2 separate regions of the Homo sapiens genome follow, and region 1 is linked to region 2. The links come from fine-mapping of genetic effects on gene expression. Tissue or cell type: lung. Region 2 holds a variant in brackets; the other region holds the start of a gene. All regions are shown on one strand. Distances are between the middles of the regions.

Evidence for each region. PIP is the estimated chance that this variant, and not a neighbour inherited with it, causes the effect.
Region 1: HABP4 starts here. The variant in region 2 is fine-mapped to the expression of HABP4 in lung (TOPMed, PIP 0.97). The same link has a PIP of 0.9 or more in thyroid and whole blood.

The regions. Positions count from the first base shown.
Region 1 is chr9:96,448,603-96,451,281 of GRCh38, forward strand. HABP4 (hyaluronan binding protein 4) reads left to right here and starts at 1,567. Exons shown (of 8, transcript NM_014282.4): 1 at 1,567-2,026. The coding sequence starts at 1,678. RefSeq lists an enhancer at 985-1,064 and silencers at 1,345-1,884, 1,895-1,954, 2,035-2,084.
Region 2 is chr9:96,329,018-96,331,696 of GRCh38, forward strand. The region is part of intron 9 of SLC35D2 (solute carrier family 35 member D2); the gene reads right to left. All of the region lies in intron 9 of SLC35D2-HSD17B3 (SLC35D2-HSD17B3 readthrough), which reads right to left. Among named protein-coding and RNA genes, the nearest start is that of HSD17B3, 28 kb to the left of the region's middle. The variant T/C (reference allele first, on the strand shown) is at 1,618.

The DNA of each region.
Region 1 (2,679 bases), 120 kb after region 2:
ATGAAACAAGCAAACACAACTAAGCGCAATCACATCTGTCACCTTACATCATAAGCCTCAAGTAGGGAGGTTCCCAAGTGGGTCCAGTCGGCAGCTCAACCTCATCAAGGATCTAGCCTTTCTCTATCCTGCTCTGCCATCCTCATGGCCACGCTAAGGAACAGCCACCCGAGGCATCATGTCTTCTCATGGAACAAAGACCAGGGAACAGAAGGGGGGGAGATCCCTTCTCAATCCCTTGTTAGGTGCAAGAAAAACTTTCCCAGAATACTTCTCAGATCTGTTCTGCCCGATTTGCCCCACAGCCTATTCCTAAGCCAATTACTGGCAAGGAATTGGAATCAGGTGCAATGAATAATGTATGATTAATCAAGTTTGAGGCTGGAAGGGGCCCTCTTCCCCTGGGGAATATGATGCCTGAACAAAATACAGGCTCTGGAAAAATGTAAGAGGGAAAGAACGGCTGTAGGATAGGCAGCCAAGCGTGTCTCCACCGCTGCCTATGCAAAGATTTCCTGGAGGAAGTCCAGTCCGGCGTTCTCTAAGCTCCAGGCCTCAACTGAATATCTCAAAAGAAAACAAATATCCAAACCTCAACGTGTCCCAGACTGAATTAATGATTCCCGTTAAAGTAGTGTCTTCCAGTGGTAACTAATACTATCATTCAGATGCTGGAGCCAGGAAAATAAGAGTCACCGTATCTTCTTCTCCCTCATCACCACCTCTAGCGCATCACCAAGTCTTTGAATCCATCTACTCTCTTCGCCTCCACCGCCACCATCCTAATCCCAGTCACTATCAACTCTTCCCTGGAGCTTTGCAACAATCATGTTTGGCTTCCCAGCATCCATTTGTATTTCCCTCCAAACTATTAGTTCACAGTGCAGGTAGGGTGGCCTTTTCAAACCCAAATCTGCTCATGCTCAAAACTTGCTTCCCACTGCTCTTAGAATAGAGACCACTTTGAGCTTGAATAGGCTGTGCACATCCCACCTCAAGACTGCTGCACTTGCTGTTCCTCCTCCAACCCCTTGTCACCCCTCTCCCTCGGCTTAACTGTCATTTCCCAATTAGGTCAGATCCCTTTGCTGCAGCCCGTAGAGAGCTCTGCGCCTGTCCTTCAGGGCACTTTTTCTCCATCTACAGACTCAGATCTGTGACAACACGGAGCTAGTATTTCCTACAACATAATGCCTGGCACACGGTAAGTGCGCAATATGTAGCTGTTGCACGGCTAAATGTATACATAAGCTTCAAAGCAGAGTGGCCCATAGCAAATACGGTCGCAGTCCCGGGAGAAAGCACACACAGCCGAGACCCCACCGCTTCGTCGGCGCCGCCTGGACCAGCCAGTAGCTCCGCCCCTGGGCCCCGCCCCTCCCTGCTGAGCGAACGGGGCGGGGCCCAGAGGTCGCGTGACGTGACAGCAGCCGGTCGGTGATTGGGTCTCCAGGCGCGCCGTGTCGGAAAGGGGGCGCACCCGCGCGCGCTGACTGGCTGTCTGGCGCAGCGGGGCGGACGGCGGCGGCGCCGCGGGGGCGGGCGCCGGTAGGGGCCGGACAGGGTAGGGCCCGGAGGGCGGTGGCGGCGGAGCGGGCGGCATGGGTCCTGGCCGCCGGCTTCGCTGAGACGCGCTCGCGTGGGCTGCCCTCCCGGGCCCGCAGTGGTCGCGGCGGCATGAAGGGCGCTCTGGGGAGTCCCGTGGCTGCCGCTGGCGCCGCGATGCAGGAGAGTTTCGGCTGCGTGGTGGCCAACCGCTTCCATCAGCTGCTGGACGACGAGTCGGACCCGTTCGACATCCTGCGCGAGGCCGAGCGCCGGCGCCAGCAGCAGCTGCAGCGCAAGAGGCGCGACGAGGCGGCGGCGGCGGCCGGGGCCGGTCCCCGCGGCGGCAGGAGCCCAGCCGGGGCCTCGGGCCACAGAGCCGGCGCGGGCGGCCGGAGGGAGTCGCAGAAGGAGCGCAAGAGCCTCCCGGCGCCCGTCGCTCAGCGGCCCGATAGCCCCGGGGGCGGCCTGCAGGCGCCGGGTACGCGGGGACAGCGGGGTTAGCGGACCACGGCTCGGCCCGCTGTGAGACTGGGGTCCCGGGGGCCGGTTTCAGGAGGAGGGGCCCGGGAACAGTAGGGAGAGTTGAGGGTCCTGGTGGCCGCCGAAGGTAGGAGGAGAGGGGCAGGGGTCACACCCCTTCCAGCTCTCGCCAGCCTCGTGCGGGGCTCCGGGGGAAACGCTGGCTTGGGGTGGGATAGGGCCCTCGAACCCTGGCACTGAGGCTCTACGGCAAGTTGGACGAAGTTGAGGGAGGTTGTCTGGGTGGCGTGTGGGGGCGAACGGCTGAGGTCGCTACCCCGGGGCTCCCACATCCAGACCTGGCGGGGACCTTCATCTTCCAGCCCAGCCTCTGCAAGATTGAGGTCGGAGCCACCCGAGAGCGCGGTGGGGAGGAGGAGGGCGCCTGGTCCCGGGGCTGGGGGCCTCTGTGATGCCGGAGGCCTGGGCGACCGCGGGGCGGCCTGTGACGTCGGGGCCCGGGCGGGGGTCCCCGGCGCGGTCCGGCCTGGCGCCTTCGCCCCTTCTCCGTCCGGTAGCTTCCAGGAGGCAGCCGGCATCGTATTTCAGTACTTCGTGTGGTGTTGATGGGATGTGCAACTTATAAATAGCTCAAGGCTGCTTTAAGAAAAG
Region 2 (2,679 bases):
GCGGAGGTTGCAGTGAGATGAAATCGCGTCACTGCATTCTAGCCTGGGCAAACAGAGTGAGACTCCATCTCAAAAAAAAAAAAAAAAGACATTATTTATGTCTTTTAAAGGACAGAAATTCTACAAGATTGAATAATTTGGCAGGAGACATTTACATATATACACACACACATATACATATATACTTTTATATATATAAATACACACTTTTTTATATATATACTTTTTTTAGAGACAGGCTCTCCCTCTGTTGCCCAGGCTGGAGTGTAGTGGTGCCATCATAGCTCACTGCAGCCTCAAACTCCTGAGCTCAAGCAATCCTCCTGCCTCACCCTCCTGAGTAGCTGGAACTACAAGAACATGCCACCACATTTGCCTAACTTTTTTCTGTAGAAATGAGTTCTCATATGTTGCCCAGGCTGGTCTCAAACTCCTGGCCTCAAGTGATCCTCCCACTCAGCCTCCCAAACAAAGCTTTGGGGCTACAGGCATGAGCCACTGTGTCTGGCATAGATTTCTTGTATTTCTCACCTGCATTTTCACATCTATGATCTTCAAAACACTCCTCCACTGGTACTTGGAGAGTGGCTGTGGCCCACGGATTTTGTAAGCATACGCTGTCCATTTGCAAGTTTGATAATTGCTCAGCCATTGCAATTAAGCAATGTTCTGCTTTTGCGGCACCAATAATAACTAGCTTTTAAACTTTTATTTTTCACAGCCCTTTTGTGAGAGAACATTTTCACAGATCTTTTCTGTTGTGTTGTTAGGAATACAGTAAGAAGGAATGATATTTGGCTTCCTCAATAAAGGAATCTATATTAGTCAGCGTTCCCCAGAGGAACGGAACCAATAGAACACACAAGTATAGATATATGAGAGGGGATTTATCAGGGGAATTGGCTCCCACAATTATGGAGGCTAAAAAGTCCCAAGACAGGCCATCTGCAAGTTGGAGACCCTGAGATGCCAGTAGCGTGGCTTAGGCCAAGTCCAAAGGCCTGAGAACGAGCGAAGCCTTTGGTGTAACTTGGTGGTCCAAGGCCAAAGGCCTCCTGACCACAGACTGCTGGTGGAAGCCCTAGATTCCCAAGGCCAGTGAGCCAGGAGTTCTGATGTCCAAGGCAGCAGAAGAAAGTCTGTCCCAGATTTCAAAGAGGGATGGATTCGCCTCTGTATTTGATCTCTCCATGCCCATGGCCAATTGGCTGGTGCCTGCCAACCATGAGGGCAAATCCTCCCCACCTGGTCCACTCAGACTCACAGGCCAATCTCCTGTGGAAACCCCCACACATATACACACACACAGACACCTAAAATAAAGCTTCACTGGGTTCCCAGGTATTCCTTAATCCAGTCGAATTGATACCTGAATTTAACTCCACAATTCCCCCTGCTTGTCAATTGGCACCCACAGGCATCGCCTTAAACCATACTTAAGTTTCCGAATGAAGACAGTAACAAAGAAATTTTGTTATTTAGTTGCATCCATCTGATGTGACACAACATGTATCCTGCATACAACAGAAATACACAATCCCTTCCCCAGAATTCAGCTTTCAGGATTTCAACATTTGAGATTCTACTCTTTCAGGATTATAATTTTTTGAAGTTAGA[T/C]CTTTTGGGGGTTATGGCATTCAGGATAGTGTTGTGAAAGGAAAATTAAATCTCAGAACCCCAAACTCACAATGCCAAAGGGAGAAGTTAAGTCTGGAAACTGAGTCACACAAAAACTGCCTTCCATTCTGTTCCTCAATAGATAGCTGCAAAGAGAGAGGGCCACACATCTCCCCAGGTGGCCTCCCTCGCAAATTGCTCACAAGGAAGTTCCTTGCAGTTCCCAAAATCTTCACCCTAAAACAGAGTTCTGCTGAATTTCACCCTGATTTTATTTATTTATTTATTTATTTATTTTTGTCACCCAGGCTAGAGTGCAATGGCACAGCCTCGGCTCACTGCAACCTCCACCTCCCAGGTTCAAGAGATTATCGTGCCTCAGCCTCCCAAGTACCTTGGATTACAGGGGCACACTACCACGCCCCGCTGATTTTTGTATATTTAGTAGAGACAGGGTTTCGCCATGTTGGCCAGGCTGATCTCGAACGCCTGACCTCAAGTGATCTGCCCACCTCGGCCTCCCAAAGTGCTGGGATTACAGGCTTGAGCCACCATGCCCGCATGATGATGTAAATTAATAGCTTATCTTAAACAGGTATGGACAAAGACAGAACTAGAAATCATCCCTCTGCCCACTCCAAGACAAATGCGTGATTGCCTCCTCCTTCTCCTGTATGCTTGCTTTTATCTTATGTAAAATGCAGATTTGCTGAAAGCCAGACAAATGAATAATTGTTCCTCGACCCCTCCTTTCACATGTAACACGTGGATTCAGTGAGCACTAATCAAAGTCTTGCAAGAATGTAGGACTCACTCACCTTACAAGAATGTAACCACTCACTTCCTGACATACCCTCCCTCCCTTTTTTTTTCTTTCCCTCTGCCCCTCCTGCCACCCTTTCCCCTTTAAATACTGAAGTCTTCAAAATTCTCCTTGGAAAAAGCACAGGCCACAGATCCTACTGTGATTTGTGTTTCTTTTTCCCCAAGTGCATCCTCAACCTTGGAAAAATGAACCTCTAAATAGATTGAGACCTGTCTCACACACTTTTTGGTTTACAG